Linked DNA regions of Homo sapiens: regions 1 and 3 are each reported to be linked to region 2. Evidence: microRNA targets listed by miRTarBase, many of them from high-throughput screens and not tested one by one. Region 2 holds a microRNA gene; each other region holds the end of a gene's coding sequence.
Evidence for each region. Region 2 holds the annotated microRNA hsa-miR-616-3p (AGUCAUUGGAGGGUUUGAGCAG, at 4,468-4,489, opposite strand). A microRNA usually pairs through its seed, bases 2 to 8, with sites in the 3' UTR of a target mRNA and lowers its output. Matches are read on the target gene's strand: a 7mer-m8 pairs with bases 2 to 8, a 7mer-A1 pairs with bases 2 to 7 and ends in A, and an 8mer does both.

Region 1 (10,168 bases), not on the chromosome of region 2:
GTTTGGTTGAGTATGGAAGTTATGTAAGTTAACTTATGCCACACCAGATGTCTGGTCAGAATTGCAATAGAAAGAGGTGCAGAGTGGGCTAGAGGAGACAAATGGAGAAAGCAACTAACCATAGCCTAATTTCAAAGGCCATTTCAGATTCTTCTTAGCACTCTCTCTCCCTCTCCTGGGCCGGGTGCTATGTGTTTCTCTCTCTAGCCCCCTCTCCCTAACACTTAGTGTTAGCAACTAAGTGACAAGATGAAAAAGATAAACTAGAAGCAAGTTCTGGCAATAACATTTTAAAAGCCACTAACACTGGCTACAGCAAATAATTGTAAAGACAAAAGAAACAGCAAATGATATGTTTATCCTGATTTATGAGAAGCTGAGGATGAAATGTTGGGACACAATGTTTATACAACGTCATGTTTTGAAGACTTTTAACCTTTTGAGTATGACCAGCCATACACAAAGAATAACGGTGTCCACCAACAAAGCACTGAAACAATCATTTGGCTGAGACTTGCAGATGACCCATTCTATGCCACGCCTTTATGGTTCTACAAACACCAATCAGCATTTCCTTACAAGTTTAACAAGGTTAAAGAACATTAAGGCCATTCGTATAGTGGTAAGGGGTGTCTATTATTAATTCATCCAGCATTTACTAAACACATTAATGTACCAAGTATTTTTAATGTAAGTTGGGCAAAGAAATATTTAAAATGATTAAGACATCATTTATGCTTCTAGGAGCTAATAGTCTAAAAAGGAAGGTAAAAACCCATAGAAGATGTTATGGAAGAAGAGTGGAGAGTATGCCAGGAGGGAGGGTAGGAAGAGTATCACCCCTTTGCTTTGTATATAGAATGTTGTATTGTAGGAGCAAGCGAGTTTATGGTGGGCTACAGTTTCCCAAAGTATGTTCCCAAAATGCTAATCCTGTAAATCTGGGACAGAGAATGGTGTGGGTGGTTCTATGGTTAAACGCTATGTATTATAATTGTCCTGTAGAGATTCACTATAAAAGTTAGCAGATTAGCAGCTCTAAGAAGTCCCCTACTGAAAACAAAAGTGCAAAACTGTTTAGCATCTCCCACATATAATTAATCATGGAACCCTTTTACAGAATGCCACCTATAAACAATCTTGAGAACAACTTTTGGGAAAATAGGGCGTATGTCCCTCAATGGCACTAAGCAGCTGTCAACACTTCAGGGGAGTAGAAAAAGACCAGGAGAATCCCTTTGTGCTTGACTTCTAGGTTCATTTCATTAGTTCTGTAATATTTCAATAGCTACTCAATAAAAAATAATAGGAATCTGTAATACAAGATCAAGTGGGAGGAAAAATGCAAAACCATAGATGACTCCCATATTCTCATTTTTATCGCATATGTTGGTCTTTTGAAATGTCAACTCTTACCAGAGATAAAATTTAAAAGATGCTGATGCTGGGGCATGACATAGGCTATGGACCTTGGTTTATGGCTGTGCAAACATATAAATGTCAATTATTGGACCACTCCTATAGTCTGATGGAGAGAAACTGTTTAAATGAAACTCTTCAGTTGCAGTTTCAAAATACTGAAATAGCCTGGCCCATCTAACCAGACTCATCCACATCAACTGGTCTCATTTCTCACACTGCCAAGGTGCCCAGACTAATACAGACACATTTACTGTATTTTAGCTGATAAGGGGTTTCATAGTGAATCTCTGCTTATTTCACCAACATTCATTTAAAATGTTCAGACACCATCCTATATAGTCATGAAGTCTCGGAGATTAGTAAAAGCCTCTCATGACTGTCAAATAACCATTCTTTAACCCTAAAGCTCTTTGTAACTTTGGCACTGCATTTCAGTTTGCTTAATTAGCTAGTAAGAGGGGCTAATTATTGATAGTGAAATTTGTTTCTTAAAGACCCTAGAGAAAAAGACCAACTGCTAAAATAAATCAAATTCTTTGCTGATTTTAGGACAAGTGACACTAGTGAATGTTTCTATTGATTTTTACTTCCTCTGGCCCTTCCTGTCCCCTTCACTGATGCTGGAAAATAACTGTTCCTTACAGTGAATATAGCCAACTCCCAACATCCTGTGCACATCTTACAAGATGGATGGAATGCCGCATATTCTTTATTTTGGTCTGGTTTTATTCTCTCATGGCATTCATGGGCTATCTCCTGTGTGTGCGTGACAAACACAAACCAATTTAAGCGTTAGTCTAAGATGAAACAAAGCTCCCTCACACAATATGTGTTCATCAAACTGATCATTTTAACATTCATGCCACAGATACCTCCCAGTGGCATGTTGGAGCTGACTAGCATACACTTTCTGAAAGGCGGCAGTGTTTGAATGGAGGAGAGGGGTGGGATGGGAGTGGGCTTTCAATCAGAATATTCTCAACTCTGCTTTTCAAATGTGTGATCTCAGGTGAGTTCACAGCTCACTCTAAAATGAAAGGATTGGACTGAATGATTTCCTAAGTTTCTTCTGGTTCTAAATCTTTCATTTTTTACTGTGTCATCAAGTATCCTTTCATCTTTGGAGCTGTTTAAAAATGGTTAATGATTAGCTTACAAAAATCAGCCAATTCCTCTAAATTATCACTTAGTCCTATTTGCTAAACTTATAATCTGTGAAACTGTTAGCACATAGAACATTTATACTAACCTCTCATTTGCTTTGTAGATTCTAGCCCATGAGGCAAATTAATTGCATAACTGATACACCTAAGTATACAGAATACAGTCATGCAACACTAGACACATTCATATTACTCTGAATTGTGCCTCAATAAAGCCTGTAATAAAAACCTGTGACTTTGTCATTTAAAAGTGGCTCTTAAAGTGCAGTCCAAAAAGGCATTCAAGGGAAATGATCTCTGAAGCTTGGTGAAAATGATTCCCGGGCTACAGAATCTGCATTTTAACACATACCCTATGATCACTGAAGTTTAGGAAATACTGGCTGAAGGAGGGATTGTAGTTTTAACTAGAATCATTTCTGAAAATGAACCACTGAAAAAATGGGGCAGTGCTCTGAATATTATTTTGGGAGCGATTACATATTTTAACAAATTAAATATATATAACAAATTAAAGTTTGGTAACATATTGAGTCTTAAGAATTTTCCAAACAGCTACCTGAGCCTCCAGTAAAAACAAAAACAGAATTTTCCACTCTTTCCCTAGCTACACAGTAAGCAGCATTGGATACTATAAATTTTGTAAGTACATTTTTAAAGAATGTGTTCTAAATGTGTTAGAAAAATGTTAATGAGCAACTCACATTTTTATCATTTTCTGTGGTTAGGCCAAGATGGCTTTTATGTTTCTGAAGCAATCCACAAGGCCAAGATTGAAGTTTTGGAGGAAGGCACCAAGGCATCTGGAGCCACAGGTATGTTCAGAGAATACCCAGTCACACTGCTTACCCATATCTACCTTTCTGAAATTTACCTAGTTGAATCTTCACACTTCTGAATCTTTCCATAACCCCCAAGTTCAGGTGTGGTGTAGTATTTTTTAAAAAGGAACACTAAAGAAAACAAAAAGTTTTTGAAAAATGACGGGGAAGAAGAGATATCCATCCCATAAAAATAATTCTGAAAGTTACCTTCAATAAGGAATTTATTCCATGGAATGTGTTGAAAACAGGAGACAGGATTGGCTAAATGGCATCTTTTCTCTTTAATTTTCCCATCTGCACCCCCATCACAACAGTAAACAATCAAATGCCATTAGGATGCTTTGATTTCTTAAAAAATTAACTTACTTCATAACCAATAGTTATTTTCTTAAAAATGCACAGAAAATGCAATGGAATTTTTCTTTCTTTCCTGCAGCTCTGTTGTTATTGAAAAGGTCTCGGATTCCTATTTTTAAAGCAGATCGGCCATTCATCTATTTCCTGAGAGAACCTAACACAGGTATTACAGTATTTTTTGACAGGATTCAGATAATTTATCAGTGTCTCTCTAGCAACAAGGGCTCATTTGTCCACTATCCCCTCAAAAATAAGCATTCTTTCTAGCTGTTTTTATGGTGCTTCAGAAGCTACCCAGTTGCTATCTTCTATCCTAAGAAAGGGGACTATTTCGTAAGTACAAAGGAAACTTATCCTCCATGTTTTTTACCTTCTCATTCTCTCAGCTCATATATAGTTAATGTAGATTTTTTTTTTTAATGCTATAGGTTTCTACTTCTGAAGACACTTGGAAAAATCATGAAAGTAAAATAAATTATAAATCTTGCCCTTTTTTCCCTTTGTCCCCTAGCTTTCTTATCATTTTAGAGTTTTTTCAGGTCACTAGAGTACACCAGAGTAGTCCTCTTGTGATCCTAGTATTCTAATGAATGCACCTGGATTTCTATACTGTTCTGTTGATCTTTCTCAAAAATCAAATGTTTGCCCTAGTACTTTTAAGTCCTACTACATAACCTTATGGTAATCCAAAGATGGTGTGGTACCGGCAAAGCCTCAGTACATCAGAAGGACACACAAATATTCTTAGGCTTCGACAATATTGAACAAAGTCTTTAGATTATTTCTCTTAATGTTCTTCCTCCCCCACTCACAATTACTTAGCCTAGGAAGGAAAAGAGATTCTCAGTTAAGAGTTGTTGGCAAGTCTAAACAGTGTATTAAAAAGAAATAGGATAGAACAAGACTAATAAAATCAAGCAAAGGTGGATCTACTTTAACTAAACATCAGGCATTACTTTTATTTATGGAGAAAAATGTCAAAAGTTAGAATGAAAATTATGCATAGTTTTACATAAATTGTTAAGGAAATACTGTCAACATCATTTTATCTGAGAATCATTTGCATCCTGCTGTACCTTGTGCTAGAAATCAAAGGAACATTTTTGTGACGAGAAAGATATAAACCATTCACTAGAAAATAATCTATTTGGGATTATTTGGAGAGAAAAAGTCCATCAACAGAGTATGTCTTCCTAGTATTTCACCATGATCATCCCAACCACATAACGATTAGATGAAAATATCACTTATCACCCAGAACAGGCGGCAGAGAGCCTTCTCTTAGAAAGGACACGTCAAAAAAATGAAAGATGAGAAAAAGGACAGGTTCTACTCCCTAAGGAAACAAAGAGACAGGACTACATTTGAACAGAAAGGTCATTGCCAAAAGCCAATAGCCAATAAAGGTTGATAGGTAAAAGAGAGATTCTGATTTTGGAATTCAAGTGCATAAAAATGATGTAAAATCCTTAAACAAGGAAAAGACACACCACTATTTCAATGGTAGGAGTTTTCAGAACTGCCTCAGTAATCAGAATGAAAATATAAGGATAATCCAAAACCAGTTCCACAATCCACTGGAATTCTAATAGTCCTTGTGACTTTACCTCTATCTGGGAGGCATTAGCCTACATCACACAACACAGTGGCTGCTCTTCTGGTGATGGTTATGGAAGAGTTTAGAAATGAGTCTCAGCCTTCATTATTTCCAACTGACAAATCTTACTAAGAGCAACTAATGAATCAATCAGCAAATGAGAAACATGGGAGACATTAAAAAAAAAGATTTGAAAACCTCAAGATTAAACTTTCCAAGAATATCATTTGTCGAGCCTTAAGTCATTCAGTGACATAAAGGGCCTAAAAGACATGATGTTTCCCCTAGATGTATTTCCCTTCCCCTTTGACAATAATTCTACAACAAGTATTCTAATTTAACTAATATACCCATTTTTTTTTTAAATGAAAAAAGCCTGAGGGAGATGAGATATTAACCTTTAGTTCTGATAGGTTTCAAACCCTCCTGACCAGGTTTTAGGATGAGGTGAGAACAGTGGCAGAGAGATAAAGGACAAAAAGAAGAGATGAACAAAACTGCTACTTCTCACCTCCCTCCAGGGTTCATTCAGAAAAATGTATTAAAGGTCATGAGCAATCTGTGAAACAGAAAATAAAACTTTCTGATAAGGAAAGCTGCTCAATATTGGGATGGGCTGAATCTCTTTCCTAGATACTCTTGTTAAGTATGAATTTTTATCTGAATGACTTCTAATTCCTCCTAGTAATTCCAGAATCTAAATATATATAATTTAGGAACAGACAATATATTCTGGATTTTGTGTAACTCTCAATGAATTTAGCAATGTGACTACAGGCAATTACCTTAACAATTCCATCTATTAAATGTTATCTTGCATTACTTAAAAGTATTTGTATAGAAGTAAACAAAGCTTAAAGAACTGCATATGAAAATACTATATAATATTAAATTCTTCTTTTTCTTGACAGGGTTTGTCTTCAGTATTGGGAGAGTTTCAAATCCCCTAGACTAAATGCATGTTCTCCACTTTCATCAATGCTTTTCTTCATAAAGTTATAATTTCATTTTGCTATACCCTTGAAATTTAAAAAAATGTCTGATAAAGTGTAAAAAGCTAAGGGTATGTGATTTTCAATATTATAAACCTAAAAATACTTCAGTTTTTAAATGTTATAAGTTTATTTTGCCTACTCTTAATCCAAATCTATTTTGACCTTCTTTTCTACTGCTTACCCCCCAAACCACTAAAAGGCACAGCAGTGATCATGAATGGTGAGTGAGTCAGGCCATAAGATTGCTTCCTCAGTACGGATACTCTAGGCCATGTTGAATTGAGGGTGGAGAATGAATAGCGTGGTTTTCCTTATCCTGTGAAACTCAGGGGGGATGCAAAATGAGCAAAGTCATCTTAAAGGTGTTTCCTTTCCATTTAGCTTATAAATAAAACAGAGTTTAAGTGTGAGAACAGCAGAGCAGAACAAGGAGGCCTCCAATTTGTTGTGGGCTTTTGCAAGCATGGCATGAAGCTGCTAAAGGCTAGATATTTCAGAGCATGTACTGTACTCCAAACCTACCACTCCCTAACAGCTTCAGCTTCGTGCCATCCACAATCCTAGTGATAAAGGAAAAGGTGTTGAAGTAAGGAAACCAATAATATCCAAAGTTGTTTGCTTTTTAAATAGCTTTTAAAGTATCTGTCTATCTGCCCCATACAAAGTCATTCCCATAATCTAGGCAGAAATGGGAGTATGTTGGCATGGCCAACAAAAACTACGAACATATAGTAAAAAGGCAATGCAGATTATGTAACATGTAATTACAGTTAGGCTTAACAAACATGAACTTCAAGTGGTGTATTTTTCCAATGCTAAAAAGCAAGGCCTTTAAAATTCCATTATCTTAGGATGTTTTTAAATGATTACTTTAAATGTGATTATTTCCTAAACCACACAAGAGTAAAATAGAGCATTTATTGATGGAATAACAAAAGTGCTTTTCTTAAATATTCTTCAAAATACATTTGTACAACTTACAATAATATATCCAAAATAACTGTATATACAAAACATTACCTAGTTTTAATGTATGTGCTTTTTTCCCCAAAAATTACAAAGTAACTTCTTTTTTTTTTGGCAAAGTTCAACCTTAACAGAGGTGACAATTTTAAAGGTTGGTTTAAGAAAATAGAACCTGAGGGAAATTGACACGCAAGAGTCAATGACAAGCAAGAGATTTGGAGGAATATTTTTAGTTTGTTAAATTAAAAATGTTTTTTAGAGTGATACTTTTCACATTACAAAAATAAACCAAAATGAAGAAAAGGTCACTGTAAAATGATGGAAAAAGGATCTGTAGATTTGCTTTTAGTATTTCAAATAGCCAACAATGCATGTCAGAAAATGAATGCAAGATCACAACAGTCTTGTATTTACTTTGTATTTGAAGAAGATAGTGAAATAAGTGGCCACATTCTATTTTCTTTTAATTGCTATTAATATGGTTGATCTGATTGGCTCTTCGATGAATTTCATCCAAGAAGTTCTCCAGTTGTTCTATTAGCATTCGTTTTTTAAACCTGTATGAAAAAATAAATAGTACTCTCAATTACTTTTTAATGAATAGTATATATCAGTATAATTTTTTTAAGAAAGGAGAGAAAATTTTGGGAAGATTTTTCAAAGTGAAATGAAAATAGAAAAATCAATACTACGACAATATAAAATATGTTGAAAGATTAGCAAATTATTATCCTAGTACAGTATTATAGTTTGTCCCTAAAACACTCTAGGGCTAAACAATGGGAAAGAGGTTGTTCCTTCCACAACCGAAAAGAAAAAGGAAAAAACAAACAAAAAAACAAAAAACTAATATATTCAAAATATATTCAAGGGCTGCAAACACTCTAGTGAAATTTGGGCTCCCCAAGCAAATACTTCAATAGCTTCTTCTCATGCTCTTTGTAAGCTGAATATTGAAAGGAATGTGAACAAAGTATGAATATAATCTCCCACAAAATGGAAGAAGAAATGAAAATTGGTCAGCAGCATTTAAAAACCATGGTATTCTATTACAATTTGAGAGCTAGCAAATCAAGGATAGACATCTATAATACAGAGTATAGCAAGCAGTTAAAGTTCAAGTAACAACTTTTAAAGATTTTCAGTAACAAATATGGACAGACTAAAATTGCATCTGTATACGTAACTGCTGACGGTTTTAAGAATATCCCAAGACACTGGACATTTTATTCCTACTTCCTTGCTACTTAGAAGCTAATATAAATAGCCACCATAATACTACACAACTCTCTAAAAGGTGGCAGAAGTGAAGTACAGATACCGGGGATATAAATTCCTAATGAGGTTTTAGCTGACAGAATGTTACCATAAAGAGCATAATAGGTTAAATACTCAAAATTACATGAAAAGTTATAGCCTTATCTTGATCCTGCAAACTGGCCTATGCTCTAGCCACTCCAAAAGTACAAAAAGAAAAGAAAACCAGAAACAAAACCAACTTTATCTAAAATCTTCATGTGTAGCATAGAAGAGACAGGGGGACAAAGTATAAGTGTGTTTACATTTAGAAGGTGGGATGTGATAAGCCCCAAGTTTTCTTATAATACTAAAATCCCCAAAATCTTGAAGGGAAAATAAAAAATGTTTTTAAACTCATACAACTATGTTTTCCAGTTAATTGCACTTCTTAATTACCATTTATAACCTTTATCCACCTTCTTTACACAGTGATCCCTCGGTATGGATGGGGGATTTATTCTAGGCCTCCCTATGAACACTAAAATCCACGAATGCTCAAGTCCCTTGTATAAAATGGCCCAATATTTGCATGTAACCTATGTACATTCTCCCATATGCTCTAAATAATCTCTACATTATTTATAATACTAATACAGTGTAAATACGATATGAATTAGACTGAATTATTTAGAAAATGACAAGAAAAAAAAAGCCTGTACATATTCAATACAGATACAACCATCCATTTCCCCGCCTCCAAATACTTTCAATCTGTGGTTGCTTGAATCCAATGAATGTGGAACCCAGGGATACAGAGGGCCAATGTACTAATGATCCTGGGCTACTGAAACAATCAGAATAAGGCCCATTTGTCCAATTCTTGTCTCCTTAATTACGTTTTCCCATGTAAAAATAAATGACACTCAAGTACGTTATTTTTAGTCACCAATATTAATGTATAAAGGAGAAAAATTAAAGGTTATAAAATATTAATGTAAAGATATCAAAAAGCTACAGAGAAGAATAACAAGAATTCTCCAAGTATCCAGTAATTTGTAGGGAGAAAAGGTCCATAATTCCTGAAGAATGTATGTGTGGCTGTTTTCTAAGTGAATTTCTTTCAATAAACTAAAAAAGAATAAGAATTTATTTATATGTTGGTATGCCATATACATTTATAAACAATACAAGTGCAAAACGGATACTATTAAAATACTGCCTATATAAACTGTGGACTCATTTCATCACCATTTCATTATATGCAATAGTTTATTTACCTTGATGCTTCTTTAATGACATTTTGTAAAAATATTAGTCTTGTTTGTAAACTGCCTTGCACATGCTTCAGTAAAGTGAAGATTCTTTCATATTCTTAAAGCAAAAGAAACAAAAAGAAAAATTAAGTGCCTTTCATTTGTATTCTTATTCAATATTCTTCTTTTGCAGTTTATGATATTAAGATATACTGAGATAAAAACATTCTACATAAAAATTTCACCACTCATTAGAGATTTTATATTTTAACATATATGTAAAAGTAAGTACACAGCAACAAAGATAAAACAACTAATCAAACCCTGCTTTGTAAGTAAAAGTTCCTATTAA
Region 2 (8,982 bases):
CAAGAGCTGGGATGTTTGTGTCTAAGTTCTTTGGGGGCTATGTGCCTGAGATGGTGCTCACCCCTGATGATCAGCGCCTGCTGGCCCATGTCACCCTGGAGCTCCAGCACTATCACCAGCTACTTGAGAAGGTTCGGTAAGTAACTGACACCTCTGTCTTTTCTGCTGGCATGTTGAGAGCCTCCTTGTATTGGTCTCTGTAGGACATTACACCTTGGCCTGCTTCCTCCCTTCCCAGGATCCGGGATGCCTTGCGCAGTATCCTCACCATATCTCGACATGGCAACCAATATATTCAGGTGAATGAGCCCTGGAAGCGGATTAAAGGCAGTGAGGCTGACAGGTAGGTAAGCGGGGAGGGTTGGCTAAAGGCATAAAGTGGCTTGTAAGCTGTATCCTCCTGGAGGTCTTGACTAATGTCTCCTCTTCCTCAGGCAACGGGCAGGAACAGTGACTGGCTTGGCAGTGAATATAGCTGCCTTGCTCTCTGTCATGCTTCAGCCTTACATGCCCACGGTTAGTGCCACAATCCAGGCCCAGCTGCAGCTCCCACCTCCAGCCTGCAGTATCCTGCTGACAAACTTCCTGTGTACCTTACCAGCAGGACACCAGATTGGCACAGTAGGTGGAAGAGCCAGCCTCTCTTAAAATTGATACTCTTGCCATGCAGCTTTTGGAGTGGGTGAGAGAAGACCTAACATCTCTCCAGTGTTACTTTGGTCATGGGACTCCTAAGTTTCTGATATAAAGTCCTTGGTAGTCGTTCACAAGTCCGGAATTATCTGTACATCTTCATTGTTCTTCATGCCAGAAACCAGAACCTGGCACACAAAACTAACTGGTAAACAGATATTTGAAGAAACACTGTGATCACCTAGTCTCCATAATGCTAGCAGATAGTGGGCAGGGAAAATACAGGAAAGCCATTTCCTCTTTGACACAAAATGAAAAAGTAAGTACATTGCTAAACTTCTGGATCAGCCTAGCATCCTTAGAGAGCTTAAAGAATCTTTGACCCTACAAATTATTTGGGGTTTCACAGGGAAAGCTACAGCTAATTTCCTAAAATCAGCAGATATTAGCTCAGTGTTAAGCTCGTTCTTTCTAAAACACATCAGAGATTGGGGTTGGAGAGGTCATCTGTATAGTCTATGGTAGAGTCTGTATCCAATCAGTAGATGATTCTGGAACTCTTTTTTTACAGGTCAGTCCCTTGTTCCAAAAATTGGAAAATGACCAGATTGAAAGTTTAAGGCAGCGCTTTGGAGGGGGCCAGGTGAGAAAGCTAAAGGCTGTGCCCTCGCTCCACAACAGCCACAGCATCACTTCCCTAATTTCCCTAAGTAGTCCTCACCCATCACTCTTTCCATCTTTTGGCCCTGCCGCTTCCTCACTTACAGTTTTTCTTTCCTGTCTTAACTAGAAGAGACCTTCGACTTAAAGGTAACCACTTTCCCTCTGAGATGCTGTATAAAACTGGAGGTTAGGGGATATTTATGGTTGCTGGTGATAACTTTGTTGTTCTCCAGGCAAAAACGTCCCCGAAGCCAGCAGTTGTAGAGACTGTTACAACAGCCAAGCCACAGCAGATACAAGCGCTGATGGATGAAGTGACAAAACAAGTATGAAGCTTAAGCCCTGTGGGAGACTGGACAAGCTGAATCCTAAATAGATCTTTTTCTTGCCTCACTGTTACCTCCCCACCCCCCTTTATCTTAGGGAAACATTGTCCGAGAACTGAAAGCACAAAAGGCAGACAAGAACGAGGTTGCTGCGGAGGTGGCGAAACTCTTGGATCTAAAGAAACAGTTGGCTGTAGCTGAGGGGAAACCCCCTGAAGCCCCTAAAGGCAAGAAGAAAAAGTAAAAGACCTTGGCTCATAGAAAGTCACTTTAATAGATAGGGACAGTAATAAATAAATGTACAATCTCTATATACAAGCTGAGACCTTTCCTTTTGTCTACTCCAAGCCTTCCCCCTGCGTATGTGGGATTGAGGGTCACATCATTGGCACTAGTGAGAGGGTAGTCAGTAGCCACTTCTGGGAAAGGTGGGTAGTGTGGCCCAAGTGGGGGACTGATGCTCCCAATTGTTCATGCTTGGTGCAGATTCACCATTCGGTCAATCAGAGCTCGGCGAGTCGCCTCTACTTCCCTGGTCAGGCGCTCGATTTCCTGCTTGAGCCGTTCATTCTCTTCAGCTAGCTGTGCCACTTTCCTTTCATTCTCCTGTTCTTTCTCCTTCATGCGCTGCTTTCCAGCCCGGGCTGGGGAATGACCACTCTGTTTCCGTTTCCTGGTTCTCCCTTGGTCTTCCTCCTCTTCCTCCTGAGCCAGGGAGCTCTGACTGGAATCTGGAGAGTGAGGGCTCTGGGAGGTGCTTGTGACCTCTGCTGGTTCTGGCTCCTCCTCAGTCAGCCAAGCCAGAGAAGCAGGGTCAAGAGTGGTGAAGATTTTTGATTCTTCCTTCAAGGAAATGAGGAAAGGGAACATAGATATTAGTTGAGAAGGGAAAGGTAACATCCCCCTTTAGCTTTAGGGCTAACATTCTTACCTCTTCATTTCCAGGAGGTGAAACATAGGTACCCCCATTTTCATCTGAAGACAGGACCTCTTGCAGGTCCTCATACCAGGCTTCCAGCTCCCAGCTGGACAGTGTCCCGAAGGAGAAAGGCAATGACTCAGCTGCCATCTCTGCAGTTGGATCAGTCTGGAAAAGCACATCTGCAGGATAATGGGGAGTGGCTGGAACAAGCTCCATGTAGCAAACAGTCTATGCCACAAGTTGGCAAGCTGGTCTGATGCCTGTTTTTGTAGGTAAAGTTGTACTGGAATACAGCCACATCTGTTTATTTACATATTGTTTATGGCTGCTTTGGTGCTACAGTGGCAGAGATGAAGAGTCACGCTAGAGACTATAGGACTTTTAACATCTAAAATATTTACTGTCCTGCCGTTTAAAATTTTTGGAAAAGGGTAGGTTAAGTTTACCTGCTTTCAGGTGTGGTGATGTATGAAGATACACTTCCTTCTTGAACACTGTGGGCAACAAAGAGAAATGTCAGCCATTTTTGGAAGGGGGAGAGGCAACTTACTTTTCTTTTTCTTTTTTTCTTTCTTTTTTTTTTTTTGAGACCAAGTCTTGCTCTGTTGCCAGGCTGAAGTGCAGTGGTGCGATCTCGGCTCACTGCAACCTCTGCCTCCTCGGTTCAAGTGATTCTTCTGCCTCGGCCTCCCGAGTAGCTGGGACTACAGGCGCGTGCCACCACGCCCAGCTAATTTTTGTGTTTTTAGCAGAGATAGGGTTTCACTATGTTGGCCAGGATGGTCTCCATCTCTTAACCTTGTGATCCATCGCTTCCCAAAGTGCTGGGATTATAGGCATGAGCTACCGTGCTGGGCCCTTATTTTTCTTTTACCTCCAGCCTCCTACTGGTCCTTCCTTACTTCTGGTCTTGTGGGGTATGCATACTTGGTCCCTGTAGCCATTTCGAAGGGCAGAAGAGGGCCTGACTTTCTTTATTTTTAGTTGCTGACATTTGTAGTCCTGGTTACATAATAGTAAAGTCCTGGCCAACTCAGCTTTCTCTAAATCCAAAGCAGGCCTCAAATCTGCCAGGGTAAAAACTAAACTACAGGGAAGGGAACAAATCATAGCATTTTCCTAACTCCATTCCCACAGGGCTGACATCCTCCAAATGTACATTTCCAGTCTGGACCTCTTCCAGAACTTCAGACTCTGCTGTCTACTGCCTACTTGCCATTTCTTTTTCAATGTCTAATAGGCACCTAAGACTATGTGCAAAGGCAAACTCTTGCTGATTTTCCCCTTCCAAGGTCATCCCCATCTCAGATGACAACTCTAGTTGCTTAAGCTAAAAACCTTGGTATCATCCTTCATTCCTCTTCTCTCACACCCTGCAATCCAAAGTACTAGCAAATTTTAACTCATTCCTTTTTTTCTGAGACGGGTCTCACTCTTTTTGCCCAGGCTGGAAGGCAGTGGCGCAATCGGCTCACTGCAACCTCCGCCTGCTGGGTTCAAGCGATTCTCCTGCTTCAGCCTCCGGAGTAGCTGGGATTACAGGCATGCACTGCCATGCCCGGCTAATTTTTGTATTTTTAGTAAAGATGGGATTTCACCATGTTGGCCAGGCTGGTCTTGAACTCCTGACCTCAGGTGATCCACCCACCTCTGGTCTCCCAAAGTGCTGGGATTACAGGTGTGAGCCACCATGCCCGGCCCTTAACTCATTCTTTAAAAATGAGTTTTTAAAACCTTTGCTTAGAAGAATCTAAACACTTCTAATTCCATTGTTTCCAATCTAGATCAATTCACTACCATCTCTAAATTACTGCAGAAACTTTCTGACTGCAGAAGGTCTTCCCATTTCTTCTCTTGCCACCCCTCCGCAACTCTATTCACCATACAGCAGCCTGAGTGAGCCTTTTAAAACAGGTCATTCCTCTGCTCAAACCCTCCAATGACTTCCTATTTCATGTCATGGAAGTCACTGAAGGGTTTTGAGTGGAGGAATTACCTAAGGTAATTCCTGACCACCTGATGTAACACTCTGACCTCCATCCTGAACATTCTCCATTCCTTTCTCTGCTTTAGCTTTCTCCGTGGCACTTATATTTTGTTTACTGTAGGCCTCCCACTGAGATGATTTTTTCCTCTTGCTCAAGGATGTACCCTGAGCCCCAAACTGTGTGGCACACAGTAGGTCCTCATTAAGTATTTGTTAAGAATGAATGGATAAACTCCCCCCAGTCTCTCTTATAGGGAAGGGGCAGAAGCAGAGTGGCAGCTGCTGATCCCTAGGGGCTAGAGATGCAATATTGCCCGAAGTATTTCTCTGCAGGGCTGTCCTCCCTGGGGAACCCTCCCTTGCCTTCCAGTGTGTGGGACTTGGCTTTCATCAGCAGTAGAGCCTCAGGTCAGAAGGCTGCAGAGCCAAACGGGGCTGGCCTGATGCAATGGTTACACAGAGATTAGCTGGGAGACAGGACCGGGTTAAAGAGGCAGGGACTAATCCCGAGGGAAGGACAATACCCTGGGGAGACCCCAAATGGCCTCCTACACTTAAGAGATCCAGGCTGCTCTCTTGTGCAGGAGGCCCAGAGACCTCTACGGCAAAAGGAAAACACACCACTCCCTGTCCATCGGCACCCCTCCCAAAGGCTTGTGTCTCCTCAAGGTTCCCCTATCCGCTGCAGGGTCCAGTAGCCCCAGCTACCAAGGTGGCCATGCTGACACCAGAGGCACTGAGACTGAGACAGAATTGGGGGTGGGGTAGGGAGAAGGCCCGCTGGTGGCGAAGCGGCGGAAACGGCCTGAGCGATGGTCACCCAGTCTTAGAGCGGGGGTGTGTCCTGCTGACCTGCCTCCCCGCGGACAGGCCTAACGATGAGGCCTGAAGTTGGCTACGGGAAAGAATGAATTTCCCAAGGGCAACCGAGGTCCCTTTGCCCAGCAGCACAGAGCAGGGCCCGTGTTCCGGCTCCGGGCAGGGGTGGAGAGACGCCGTCGTCCGAAGCAATAGGGGTTTGTAAGCACCACCCCAGAATAAGGGACTCTCCCCATTCCTCTCTCGGACGGTCCCTAACTTCACTGTGGAGGAGTGAGGCCGATCCTAAAGAGCGGACGCCCCAACTTTGAGGAGACGGGAGGGTAAAAGGTAGATGGGAATCAGTACTCGCCTCTCTCCTCAGGTTCCAGCTCTGATTTTGGCTCTGTCGCTGCCACCCGCTCATCTTTAACATGATACGCTCAGTGCCTTAGACTTAAGTCTCTGACCTCGGGAGCGCCTGGCTGTAATCTTTTACCATGGCCTTGCCCTCCTCTCAGGGGCGGGACCCCAAAACCTACCAATCAGAAAGTGGCACGCCGGCATTGGCCCCGCCCCGTCCCTCGCATCCGCCACTCAGGAGCCCCGCGGCACCGCCCCCGTCGCTCCCTCTCGCTAGGGGGTCGACGTAGTGTCGGACCCGGAAGTGGCTTTGGGTCACGAGGCTTCACGGAGGAGGTGGGTGAGTCATGCGCGCGCGCGGAGGGGAGTGTAGCGGGGGGGGAGGGGAGGAAAGGGGGGCGGGGATGATGCAATGTTTGGCAACCGGTGTCTGCACGCGCACGCGCAGGGGACACCGAGGGTGGTGGGAGGTGCGGAGGGTGGGGGAGAGGAGAGAGGGCGGGGCGCCAGCTCCCGGCGCCCAACGGCCCCAACGGCTATCAGCCTTGGTCGCCCCTAGTCGGTCGTGAGCCTCTTTGCCGCTTGTCTCCCCCAGAAGCTGCTGTTCCGCCCACCTAGCTTTACCCGCCGTTTTACCCCCACTATAAGGGACTCCCATATTTCTTGGCCCCTCCCAGCTAATGGGCACATAGGCCTTTTGAACTTTTCTTTTTAAAGTTGGTATCCATCCACTGGGATTGTCGACATCTCGAGTCTTCTTAAAGAGGTCTCCTGGCCGGGCTCAGTGGCTTACGCCTGTAATCCCAGCACTTTGGGAGGCTGAGGAGAGCGGATCACTTGAGGTCAGGAGTTCGAGATCAGCCTGACCAACATGGTGAAACCCCGTCTCTACTAAAAATACAAAAATTAGCCGGGTGTGGTGATGCGCGCCTGTAATCCCAGCTACTCTGGAGGCAGAGGCAGAAGAATCGCTTGAACCCTGGAGGCGGATGTTGCAGTGACCGAGATCGCGCCACTGCACTCCAGCCTGGGTGACAGAGCGAGACTACGTTTCACCAAAAACAAAAAACAAAACAAACAAACAAAAAAACGGGGGTGGTCTCCTGTTCTAGCCCCGTAAATCTCCCAAAAGGGGCCGAGGTACTGGAATCCCTTGGTAGTCATTTTCCGCTTCTCTCAGAACAGCGCCCTTGACTTTTACCTTGTAGTTGGTAAGCCCTCAGCCTGCCAGAAGTCATGTATTTTGCCCAGTGGACCCGATTCTGTTTGGCCACCTATTTTCCCCCACGGTACTCCTATGGCTTTCTCCAAGACCCTCTCTTGCTGTACCAGACAGCAAGTCCTGTGACTCCCTGTGTGAGGAGCGCGGCACAGGCCTGCCTCCTAGGTGTTCGGGTCGAGATTTACAGCGGAGTCTCATCCCGGGACGTGTGAGTGCACTTCAGCGCAGGACTGCCCTGGACTGGGGAGACCGGAGCCGCGATTTTAGACTCAACTCCCCATCACTTGCCAAGGGATCTTACCGTCCTTGTTTGTAAATTAAAGATAAAAGTTGTGAAGGTAAAATGAGAACCATGAACTTGGAGGCAACTTGACCAAAAGTAAAACGCACCACCCAGAATGCAAAGTATTTTTCTTGTGCCTTGAAAACAGAGGCCATGTGGTGGCCTGTTACATATCCTGTCATACCCTCATGGGGGCAGCCAGAGTTTAAGTAGAAACTGTCACAAGGCCGGTTGTGACTGGAGTGGTGTGGCAATGACAGGTCTTTGGTTAGGCTGCTCCGCTGCTCCACACCTCCATTTCCTCTCTGAAAATGGGGGTAGTGTGGAGGGTGGACCAGATGGTCTCCCCTGGCCTAAAGACAGACCAGGTTGTCAGTGACAGGCAGAGGTCATGTGACTTGACAGGCTGAGGTCGTGTTGTGACATGTTGACCTGGGGAGGCGGGTCAAGTCCCAGCACACTACCCGGGAAGCCTTTGGGGCGGGGCAGGGCAAGTCGCGACTTTCATCTTTCGGGGCCTGGCCCCTCCCGGACCTGGCATTCCTGGTTCCCGCAACAGACTGTGGCTTTGGAAGGGGCCCCTCCCTGAGGAGGGCTGGGATTGGCCACCAGTGGCCTGGGAAGAGGCGCAGATCCTTCCGCGGAGGGCGGGGGGGCCGCGTGGGGTGTTTGTTCTCTTGGGGATTAATGGGGGGTTGTGGGGGAGGGGTAGGCGCGCTCCCGCATGCGCACTGCAGCCCCTCCAGTTGGCTCGTCGCTGTCCGCTGGGCGGGGGCCCGGCCCCGCCCCTCTCCCGTCCGGGCAGCGGCGGAGGCGGCGGCTCCTGCGGCGGCGGCTGCGGCAGCGACGGCGGCGGCGGCAGCGGCAGCAGCCTGCGCAGTGCCTTCTGGGAACGGAATCCCCAGGGCTGCCCCTGGCCCCCATGGCGCATGCGCGGGAGGCCGCTCGGTGATCCGCGGCGGCGGCAGCGGCGCTTCCTGCTAGGACCGGCCGGGGCCGTACCGGAGGCTCGGGCTCCACCGACCCTCCTCCCACCCCCTCCCACTCACCCTCTGGGCCGCGACTGCGCAGGGCGGGGCCGGCCGAACCATGGGCCGCGGTGAGTGCGGGGCCCGGCCCCCCCCACCCTGCCCCTCCCCCTCCCGTCCCTACCCTCTGCCCCCTCCGCGTCCTCTCGGCCCCTTTCCCCGGCCCCATCCCCACTCCCCCGCCCTCACCTGCCCCCGCCGCTTCTCCCTCTCACTGCCAGACTTCTGCCTTCCTCACCGCCCTCCCCTCAGTGCTTCGCCCACCCTCCGCCCGCCCTCTCCCCAAGTTCCTTCCTACTTCGTGCGCCTTCCCCTCCTCCTCAAGCTGAGGGAAGCAGTCTGGGTGACAGGGCGCCTTGTTGTGAGAGGGAAAGTTTGGAAGCCGCCAGTGTGGGGTGGGAGCAATGGTGAGGCTGGGGAGGATACCTGCAGGTTGGAGGGGCTTCCCCTTCTATCGGAGGACAGGCTCTCTTGGAGATAATCGGAAGCCAGTGGAATAGGAGGTTCTGAATCCCTTTGCCGTAGGCTTGAGGGAAAATCAGGAGCTTCCCAGGATCCTGGGAGAAGACTGAGCTGTGATCCTCACCTCTTAAGACCCGAATGAACTATATCAGCGATTGTCTGATGGAGCAGGCATGGGGGGAGTTCTGCTGGTACCACCCCAGCGGGCAGTTGGGCAATTGCCTGGTGACCTGTGGGGCAATCTGTACTTTTTATATCATCTTCCTGGGTAGAGAACAACAGGAGCCAGACACTC
Region 3 (10,168 bases), not on the chromosome of region 2:
TCTCAAGCCGATTCTGATGTTGATAGGTCGCAGCTTGTTCATCTGTCTCTTCTGGAGACCTCATGAGACATGAGGTAAGACGGTTACCCCAAGTGGCAGGCTCCATGTCTACCTGTATACTGGCCTTGAGGGCAGCATGGCCTGCTTTGTGACAAAGTATGAGAAAGAAGTTCTGTGAAGTTTATATTCCATTTAGCCTTATTTCTTTAGGTCGAGACTTGAAATTCAAAATGGTGATCAGGTGTAGGAGGGGCTATTTAGCCTCTTGAAGGCCAGGGTGTTCATGTGGGACTCCCCACTGGGCCTGGCCAAATGCCTATGACAGTGTAGATGTGGATAAGTTATTAAAGGATTGAATGAGGTGTGATCAATCAGCTGAAGCAGTTCATTAAAAGGTAAGTGGCATTTAGAAGAGAAATTGAATAACTACAAAGCAGTTGCCTGTATATGAAGACATGAGAGTGAGTCACACTGAGGACAGGATTAGCAGGAGTCCCTGAGAGTGCTGTAGCTGGAGGCGGGGACGGTGAGGGAGCAAGCATGGGCCTGGCTTCATTCGAACCACGATCCTGGTCCGAACACCAAAAGACAGGTTTCTTGTTAAATGGTTAGAAAGTGAGATCTTTGAGGCAAAGGCTAATGAACTTGAGATTGTTCTGTTTAGACAGTAGAAGTTCTGAAAGGAGGTTGTGACGATGTCACATGATCTTGGAAAGTTGGAAGGCCCACTCCCCAGAAGGTGACAACCAGTTGATAAAATGTATTCACTAAGGCCAGAGCAAGAGAGGACACAGCCTGGCCTGTGAGCAGCAGGCAAGATGGGGCAGGAGTTCCTGGCTGCAGTTTTAAAATTCAACCCATTACCAGATTCTCAGGGTCTGAGATATGAGGTCATGGTTTCCTCAAAATATGCATGTATCTCTGGAATCACAGGAGGTAGTTTGTTAGGAAATGTCTCGAGTACCCAAACAGCAATGCTTATAATCAGAGCTAATTACTTCAAAATTAATCCAGTTGTCTTCAAACATAACTGTGTGTGGATGAAGTTGAGCCAAGGAAGAACTTAGGCTGGGACATACGCATTCCTCCCCTTGATTCTAAATGAAAAGTGGCGGCGGCTCAGTCACTGTGGTCATTTAACACAGGTGCAGTGCTTCACCACATGTCCCCAACCAGGCAGAAAGACTCCGTGCTTAATGAGGAAGGAAAAGCATTTTGAAAGCACACACAGTTCTACCCAAATTATACATGTTACCTTTCTTTAACTTGGTTCTTTTAATCCTTTAAGAAGTGCTCAAGCTGTAATCTATGACACCTGTATCTGTTTAGGTCATAGCATTGTAAGTGTTTTCTTGGGCTTTAAAAATAAATCTACGTGGGGGAGGGAAATCGAACCTGCATGATAATCTTAGGCATGCGAACACAAGCACATGAGCTGAGAAAGTCAAAATCATGGTTTCCATGGTAATTCTTAACTTGTCTGTGTCGTACACATTTCTCAAGAAATACACTCACCAGACTACCTAGTGATAAAAATTGCTCCACAGGCATACAAAGGTGGATTTTCTAACTCTCTCTTATTGTAAAAGGTCTTCCTTCCTCCCACCCCTAATTAATCCACGTGTACTTGTAAATAACCCTGGGCAGGAAACTGAGGTCCAAGTCCTGCCCTCTAAATCAGTCTCTTTTTTTATGGGAGAAATCAGCTTTCATGTGATTAATGCCATTTCCTCTCTCTCCCCTCTGCAGATATATGTTGGGTAAAGGAGGAAAACGGAAGTTTGATGAGCATGAAGATGGGCTGGAAGGCAAAATCGTGTCTCCCTGTGACGGTCCATCCAAGGTGTCTTACACCTTACAGCGCCAGACTATCTTCAACATTTCCCTTATGAAACTCTATAACCACAGGCCCCTGACAGAGCCCAGCTTGCAAAAGACCGTTTTAATTAACAACATGTTGAGGCGGATCCAGGAGGAACTCAAACAGGAAGGCAGCCTGAGGCCCATGTTCACCCCCTCCTCCCAGCCCACCACCGAGCCCAGCGACAGCTACCGAGAGGCCCCGCCGGCCTTCAGCCACCTGGCGTCCCCGTCCTCCCACCCCTGCGACCTCGGAAGCACTACGCCCCTGGAGGCCTGCCTCACCCCGGCCTCACTGCTCGAGGACGACGATGACACGTTTTGCACCTCCCAGGCCATGCAGCCCACGGCTCCCACCAAACTGTCACCTCCAGCCCTCTTGCCAGAAAAGGACAGTTTCTCCTCTGCCTTGGACGAGATCGAGGAGCTCTGTCCCACATCTACCTCCACAGAGGCGGCCACGGCTGCGACTGACAGTGTGAAAGGGACCTCCAGCGAGGCTGGCACCCAGAAACTCGACGGTCCTCAAGAGAGCCGCGCAGATGACTCAAAACTGATGGACTCTCTGCCTGGGAATTTTGAAATAACGACGTCCACGGGTTTCCTGACAGACTTGACCCTGGATGACATCCTGTTTGCTGACATTGATACGTCCATGTATGATTTTGACCCCTGCACTTCCTCATCAGGGACAGCCTCAAAAATGGCCCCTGTGTCTGCCGACGACCTCCTCAAAACTCTGGCTCCTTACAGCAGTCAGCCTGTCACCCCAAGTCAGCCTTTCAAAATGGACCTCACAGAGCTGGACCACATCATGGAGGTGCTTGTTGGGTCCTAAGACCCAGGGACCCAGCGACTATGCCCACCCAGACCCCAGAGCGTTCCCATAACCCTGACAGTTCTCCACACTGTGCATGCACCCTTGCTTGCCTTTTTCAGAGAAAAAGAAAATTTTACAACAGGATCACACTAGTTTTTGCTTTGAGCAGAGTTGGAGTGCCTTCATCCAAGTATGACCACTTTTAATACACTTTTTTGAGTGGTTCCTCAGAGACCTACTACCCTGGTATAGGAAAGAATCCATTTGAAGACAATGTTGCAATGTTGAATGACAAAAATAAACAGTTCAAGTGAAGCACAAGGATTAAGTTGGAAAAGCTGTAAATTGCATGTGCATATTTGTCTATTTTTTCTATAAGTTTTATTGCAAGAGGTAAAGAAGAAAACTATATATATATATCTTATTTAGATAATCTCAGTACCTTTTCTGGCATTTTTGCCCTGTATAGGTTGACTTGGCAATTCGGCCTTTTTAGAGGCATTAACTACTCCTCGTAAGTGTTGCATTTACATGGCTGTTTAGAAAACTGCTGCCCAAATTTATTTTATATTTTTGTACAGATTCTGCAGTTTATGATATTGTTTTTCTAAAAACAAATGCTGTTTATACATATGAGATAGCTATTTTGATAGGATTTGCTCACATAGTTCCTGCAAACTTCAGATGTACAAGTTGCACTTGTACTTTTATAGAGTTGTAATGTTTTATATGTGTATGGTGCAAGAGAAAATTGGATCAAATCAATCTGCAGTTGATGTCCCCAAATGCAAACACAGGCACACACATGCACACACCCATAAACACACACACAGTGCTTTAAGAAAGGGCCAGGTGATATCACACCCAAATTTCACAAGCACTGACCCCCTGGCACCAACACCCGCCAGTACTGTGACTTCCAAAGCCAGAGCCACATGTGCTCATCAAACTTGCATTAAGCAGTTGGCGGGAGATGGCTGTGGAGCTGGGGGTTTAAGTGATGGTTCTCTTTTGCTCCCTCTTTTGAGGGTAAAGCTACTGTCTTTCTTAAGAGTGTATTTATGCCAAGTTTGCGCTTTTAATTGTTTTTATTTTGTTTTTTAATGAAAACCCAGATCTTTCCTTTTTGGCATAATTTTTATGATGACCTGAAATTTTACATCCGAACAAAATTTTACATCCGAAAAGCAACCAACTTCTTCATGGAACTCAGCCCTGTTGCAATGCTTAGGGCCCTTAAAGAAGAAAATCTCCCCAGAAGGCATCCATCATGTTGCTTAATTGTCTTCTGCAGCTTCCTTTCCCTAGAGCTTTCCCTGTGTTGCTAAGAGCTGAAAATGGCATCTTCGTGATCACCACAGTGAGCTTGGCTCGCCTCGGCCGGCCCGGGATGCACTCTTACAACATGTGTGACTCTTGAACCTGGAGTTCATCACATTACGTCACAGCTTCCCATCTGGTTGCTTTCCTGAGTCAGCTACTTCACACTTGTCAAGGCTGTTTTACCCCAAAACTCAGACAGGACTTTCTATGCATGTTTTCCCTCCTCCCCCCAATTCCCCCCCCCATCACCTTATCTCCCAGGACACACTTGAGAAGTAGCTTTTTATTCCTAGTGGTGTACATTTAATTTTAAAAAGGTTGCAATGTATCATGCTTGTTGCCGAAACTGTTTATGGCCTTCTTGTTTCAGTTTTTTCTTTTCTTCCAATGGTACTTTAGCTGTTGAGTGCAGGTTACAACCTATATTGTTATGCAGATGGCTTCTTTAGGAATAACTTTTATATTTATTTAAAAATTTTTAAATTATGGGATGTTTTGTTGTTGTTGTTGTCTTTGTTGTTGGTCATTTGTCAATATTCAGTCACCAATTCTGCTCACTTCTTGCCATGGATAAAATTGGGTCTTTCTGGCTAATTAAAAAAGACAACTTTATAAAATGGCACTTTAAGCAAGCCATAGTTAGTTTTATTTTTGTAATGCACATGGCAAAGCAAAGACGTTTGTGATGAAGGAACTGCTCATCTAAGCAAAAGATTTGAGTATGATATGATAAAGGCTTTCTACATTCTAATTTACTTTTTCCCCCCACTTGAATGTGTTTTAAAGGCTAATTATCAGCTCAGTAGAGCAGTGAGAAACTGATCAAATTGCACTTGTTCTCCTACAAGCAACCTCCACGCAGACACCTCGTACTGCTACAGGTGTGTCATTTCCTTTAATAGGACCAGGGACCATGTAACTGAGGTGAGGGTTGTAGTAGATGCTTCCAGTGTCAGTATGCCTGTTAATTTTAAGAGCTTCCCTTTCTTGCAGAGAACAAGTCTGCCCAGATTCCATGCTTTCTATAACTGGAGGACCTGGCAAACCTGCCGCATGCTGCACACATCTACCTACGTACACATATACAATAGTATTGATGATTCTGAACAATAACAGGGTAAAACAGTTGGTTTGCCATTGTTAAAAACTGATTTACAGTAACTTACAACAACTGTACTTTTGTTGGATTAGCAAATCATGTGTTTAAACAAATCCCATATGTTGGGCAACAGTTCAAATAAGCACGGAGAAGTGTTGCCCAAACTTGGTTCTCTGACTCTTATGTATTTGTAAGGCTGGGCTTCAAAATCAAAACAAAAACCCCAAAAACAGCAGGCAAATGCTTTTTAACTCTGACACCGTTGCCATAAATCCCTGATACTCAAAGTCTAACAAGAAAGACATGGAAAATTAGCAGCCCATTTTCAGAAAGATCAAAATGATCTAGGGTTCTAATTGCTTTTGCATCCTATTCTTACAAAGTGATGTCCCAACAGGGAACAGTAGGAGCTGGAGTGGGATCTCCAAGTCCCAGTTTGAGTGTGGGATGTGCTTCCAGCAGTGCCTTCCCTTTATGAAAGACATCACATGGCATCCAGGGCCAGGCAGGCAGCTTGAGGTGCCTTTACGAGAAAACCGAGCTGGGGCTGGGAGAGGACAGTTATTGACACTGATGTGCAATGAAGTGACAAGATGAGAGCAGAATCGTAAGAGCTTTGAATTTGAAGTGAGTTTTTTTCCCCCCATAAGTTATTTATTCCTTTTTTCTGTGTAAATATATTTATTTTACTGTGGAGCGCTAACATCTGGATCGTAACATGTGCAGAATGTATGGTAGGAATGTATTCTCTTGTAGGAATGTAAATCTGTATTAAAAGGGGGTCCAAGCCAGGCCCCCAGGTCTTCTCATTGTATGCACAGTCCGCATTCATTTTTACTCTTCTCTAATATGGGTCTATTTGAAATATGCAAAAGGTATGAGGAATGTTTTAATACCTCCAAATTTTTAAGAAAAGCATCAAAGGGTTGATATTTTTTAAAGTTTTTTTAGTAGCACTTTCTCTGGATGACAGAAGGAGCAACCACATGGGCACCCTTGTTCATACCAAAGGGTGAGCAGTGGCCAGAGCCTCCTCTGCACCTCTCGAGTGTCTTTACCAATTGAGCTTTTTATCGCCATAGCCCCTTGGAGTGCCCCAGCTGCCCTGAGGTCAATCAAGGAAAATTTCTTAATGAAATAAGCTCCAAAGAGCCAAAGTATCAACTTACAGATCGTTTTTAAAGCTTAAATTTATGAACCACCTTTGTGGTAAACAATGAATTATGAATACCGCAGGGCAGCCTTCTTAAATGACAAATGTAAAAAAAAAAAAAAAAAAGACTCTACTTCGTGCAGCAATTGCTACTCTATACGAATTGTCTTAATTTGAAAACCTTGCTGTTACAAATTGGACCTTTATACATTTTCTGAAAACAATGAAAAGAGTATATTTAACCTTTTCTGGCTGTAAATGGTTACCTTCCTGTAACTGCCCCGCACCTGGAGGCATGGAGTTGTGTGCATCCTGCTTATGTACAATTGTTTTCAGTGTTTCTAAGAATGAGTCTGAATGGTTCTTGAAAATTAGCCAGGATCAAATGCTATTGCAGACAAAGCCAATAAAAAGTTGGACTTCTTTTGGGGATAACAAGTTTTGGAAGAGAAATGCAGGCCATATGTGCGCATGACCGAGATTTTGAAAAAAGATGTACATAGTGACATGTTTGGTGCATGGTTTTTGAGGAGGGCTTTTGTCAAAAAGGAGGTATAACCTTTCCCCCACAGACCTGAGAGCTGTGCCTTTTCTATGCAATATTACAGACGTTACATCGGAACCCAGATGGCTGTATTCACATGTAGGTTTGGGCTGTAATCTAAACAATTGGACAGATTAAATGTACATGGAAATGAGCAGTCTTACTTTTGTAGTTTTATATTATACAATAAACAGTTAAAAGATGAGAGAGGCATGCTTGCAGTTTTCTTTTGATGGGAGCTCAATCAGCTTATTTGTGACAGTTTGCTCACATTAAGCAAAGTCCAGCAAGAGAGAGCAGCAGGGGGGCCCCGAAGGAGTGCGTGCTGTTGGTCTTCCTGAACCGTCCTGGTCTCAGGAACCACCCTTCTCTCCTGGTTCTCCTCCTGCTTCTTGGACCCTTCTGGACCTCCTTTTTCTCACATCTGTGCCCCAGCTCTCTTTAAAACATTGTCTTTTCCAGGGTTTGGCCCATGACTGCACTTCACTGAGCCTCCATTCCTGCTGCCTCTTGCTTTCCCAAGGTGATCTAATCCACTCAGGACTCTCAAAACTGGTCTCCAGCCCCTGCCTCTCTCCTGAGCTCCAGACTTCAGTATCTACCAAGATTTGCTCCCTCACTCTCAGCGCGTCTAAAGAGCTCTCGTTTCCCCTGGGGGCTGATTCTTCTGTGGGCTCGTTGTCTTCAGCACTCTGCTCCACGCTTGGCTCAGTTGCCCACCCTTGCACCCTGTTCCGCAGTCCCAGCCATGTCATTCCCTCTGCCACCACCTCTCCATCCTCACCATAGCGTCCCCAGCTCGGACCCTTTCTCTCTCCTTGCCTCTGACCGCCGTACCTGTTTCCTGACTAGTCTTCCTGCTGTGATCGTCTCTCTACCATCCCTGATGCTGGAGTTGACATTCTAAAATGCCAGTGGGTCACGTGGTTGTTGCACGTCCTCCAGGTGTACCCACTGATTATACCATCTGGACCCTGCCCCTGCTGTCTTCCAGTGGGGAGTGGGGGAGACCCTGTGCAACCTCCTTGGCCACTGGGCTGTCTTGGATGGAGTCATGGGATCTGGCCTCACCTGGCCTAGGCAGTTTTTTATTTTGGTGTGGTTGGGCCACCACACCACTGGCAAGGGAAAAGGGATGGATGTGTGAGACCTGGGAAGTGAAGGTTCAGCTCAATCAGCAGTGGAATGTGAGGTGGGGTGTGAAGTGCTGGGGAGGTGTTAGGGGCTGAATTGTTTCCCCCAAAAAGGTAGGTTTCAGTACCTCAGAATGTGACTTTAATTTGGAAGTGGGGTCTTTATAGAGGTAATTAGGTTAAAATGAGGTTATTAGTGTGGGCCCTAATTCAGTGGCTAATGTCCTTATAAAAAGATATTTGAACACATACATGCATACATGGAGAAGGCCATGTGACAGTGAAGGCAGAGACTGGGGCGGTGGATCTACAAACCAAGGAGTGCCAAAGATACCAGCAAACCACCAGAAGGCAGGAGAGAGGCATGGGACAGACACTTTCTTACGGCCCTCAAAGCAACCAAGCCTGCTAGCACCTCAATCCTGGACTTCTAGCTCTAGAAAAATAAATTTCTGTTGTTCCAGCCACCCAGTCTGGGACACTTTGTTTCAGCAGCCCTAGCACACTGATGCAGGGGTAGAAGAACAGGGCGAGCACTTTCCAGACACCCGGCGGAGATAAGCACCAGGCAACTAGGACGGAGGGTCCGTTGTTCAGTAGAGTGGTTTGTATCTGGAATTAGGAGCTTCTGCTATTAATTAATGATAAAACTTTGGCAAATCATTCAATCTCTGTATTTATGAGGATGAGATAAAGCGTGGCTCCCAGAGCTCTTTGAAAATGTTGACAGTACAATGAAAATGCAAATTATGAATGTCGTATCTGTCCTCATGCCTAGAGCTGTGCCCAGCATATGGTAGGCACTCAAAATGTTTGTTGAATGAAAAGAAGAAAAAACAATCTTGTAGTTCATCTTTCTTTATAGAATGAGAGAAGCCCAGCACTCAACATCTTTCTTGTCTGGGTCCTGGGTTCACACCACACTCGCCCTCAGGATGTGCTGCTTTGCCAGCACGCACCAGCAGCCTGCCTCCACGTGTCCTTGCTTGCACCTGCCCCTTCTGCTTGTGGAAATTCTGCCCATCATTCCAAGGCCAAACTCAAATGCCTGTCCATGAAACCTCTGCATGCCTGGAGTCAAAACCAGCCTTTTCCTCTTCTGGGCTTTCCCAGAGCTCCATGCCTCCGCAAATGCACTTAGCAAGTCCTGCCGCGTCTTCGGATTAGCTGTGCAGTTTGTTGTCTCTGTACTCCCTGTATCCTTAAGAGCAGCAACCCTGTGTTGTTTATCTTTGACAGAGGTTGGCAAACTGCAGCTTACAGGCCAGATCCTGTCCACTGCCTGCTTTTGTAAGAAAAGCATTGCTGGAACCTGGCCACGCTCGTGTATCTGTGTGTTGCCCTGTCTGCTGTCTTACTACGATGGCAGAGTTGAGTAGTTGCAAAAAGACCACATGGCCCTCAAAGTCTGAACTATTTGCTATTTGGCCCTTTACAGAAAAAGTTTGCCAAATCCTGATCTTTGCAACTCTCCCAATACTGAGAACAGCGTCTGACCATAGATGGGATAGGCTCAGGGCTACATAGACTGGGGACACACACCCCTGGAAAGATGAATACGGTACAGGCGTCAGGGGAGTCCTAAGGGTGCAGAATGCTGGAGGTGGGGTTTCGAGGGCCAGACGGGGCAGAGTAGTCTGGAAAGTTACACAAGAGTGGACATATTCAGAGAGCTTAAGACTTGGGAGGGGCCATAGAGCTAGATCTTCCCACCAAAGGGGCCTTTTTGACAGATGTGCAAACTGAGGCCCAGAGAGGGAAAAGGATTATTGTCTGGGGCAAAATAGTTTATAGCATCAGAGTTCAGTTTGGCTCTGCTACCAGATCTCCCAAGCTTGAATCCTGGCACCTACAATCTTGGGCAAGTTCCTGAGCCTCTCTGTGCCTCAGCTTTCTTAGCTATAAAACGGGGGAAATAATTGAGCTTGTCTCAGGGCATGGTGGGGATCAAATGAGTCAATGTGAAGCACGCTCGAGCATTTCTAGGGCACTGGAAAGTCCACAAATGTCAGTACAGCTAACATGATGGCAGACAAGGCTAAAATCCAGCTCTCCACTCTCAGCGCGGTGTTTTAGGTTAAGCCTCAAAGCACAACTGGGGTATCTTAATGCTGGAGGCATGTTTGCTGGGCAGAACCAAGATTTCCTAATACCTTGCATGTTGTGGTGGTCGGCCACTTACAGAGAACACTGTGCTCTGTGCTTGCATGGCAATATGTGGTCCCAGAATCTCTAT

Region 1: miRTarBase lists INTS6 as a target of hsa-miR-616-3p. Seed matches in the 3' UTR shown: 7mer-m8 at 5,143-5,149.
Region 3: the mRNA of SERTAD2 is a reported target of hsa-miR-616-3p. Seed matches in the 3' UTR shown: 7mer-A1 at 2,968-2,974 and 7mer-A1 at 6,352-6,358.

The regions. Positions count from the first base shown.
Region 1 is chr13:51,357,965-51,368,132 of GRCh38, forward strand. INTS6 (integrator complex subunit 6) reads right to left here. Exons shown (of 18, transcript NM_012141.3): 17 at 9,841-9,934; 18 at 3,613-7,881. The coding sequence ends at 7,788. SERPINE3 (serpin family E member 3) reads left to right here. Exons shown (of 10, transcript NM_001386375.1): 8 at 3,314-3,400; 9 at 3,846-3,929; 10 at 6,275-6,771. The coding sequence ends at 6,318. Among named protein-coding and RNA genes, the nearest start is that of MIR5693, 14 kb to the left of the region's middle.
Region 2 is chr12:57,514,716-57,523,697 of GRCh38, forward strand. It overlaps MIR616 (microRNA 616), which reads right to left and starts at 4,544; the gene lies at 4,448-4,544. MARS1 (methionyl-tRNA synthetase 1) reads left to right here. Exons shown (of 21, transcript NM_004990.4): 16 at 5-136; 17 at 239-343; 18 at 435-621; 19 at 1,205-1,276; 20 at 1,530-1,622; 21 at 1,720-1,937. The coding sequence ends at 1,866. It overlaps DDIT3 (DNA damage inducible transcript 3), which reads right to left and starts at 5,799. Exons shown (of 4, transcript NM_004083.6): 1 at 5,703-5,799; 2 at 2,991-3,038; 3 at 2,554-2,723; 4 at 1,878-2,465. The coding sequence starts at 2,691. The coding sequence ends at 2,094. It overlaps LOC128125814, which reads right to left and starts at 5,765. Exons shown (of 2, transcript NM_001414991.1): 1 at 5,703-5,765; 2 at 2,997-3,038. The coding sequence starts at 5,765. The coding sequence ends at 2,997. It also overlaps MBD6. RefSeq lists enhancers at 4,635-5,596, 5,567-5,696, 5,571-6,770, 5,597-6,556, 6,557-7,517 and 4 more and silencers at 5,767-6,226, 7,941-8,340.
Region 3 is chr2:64,628,457-64,638,624 of GRCh38, reverse strand. It overlaps SERTAD2 (SERTA domain containing 2), which reads left to right. Exons shown (of 2, transcript NM_014755.3): 2 at 1,750-7,004. The coding sequence starts at 1,754. The coding sequence ends at 2,698. It overlaps SERTAD2-AS1 (SERTAD2 antisense RNA 1), which reads right to left and starts at 1,701. Exons shown (of 2, transcript XR_940172.3): 1 at 1-1,701.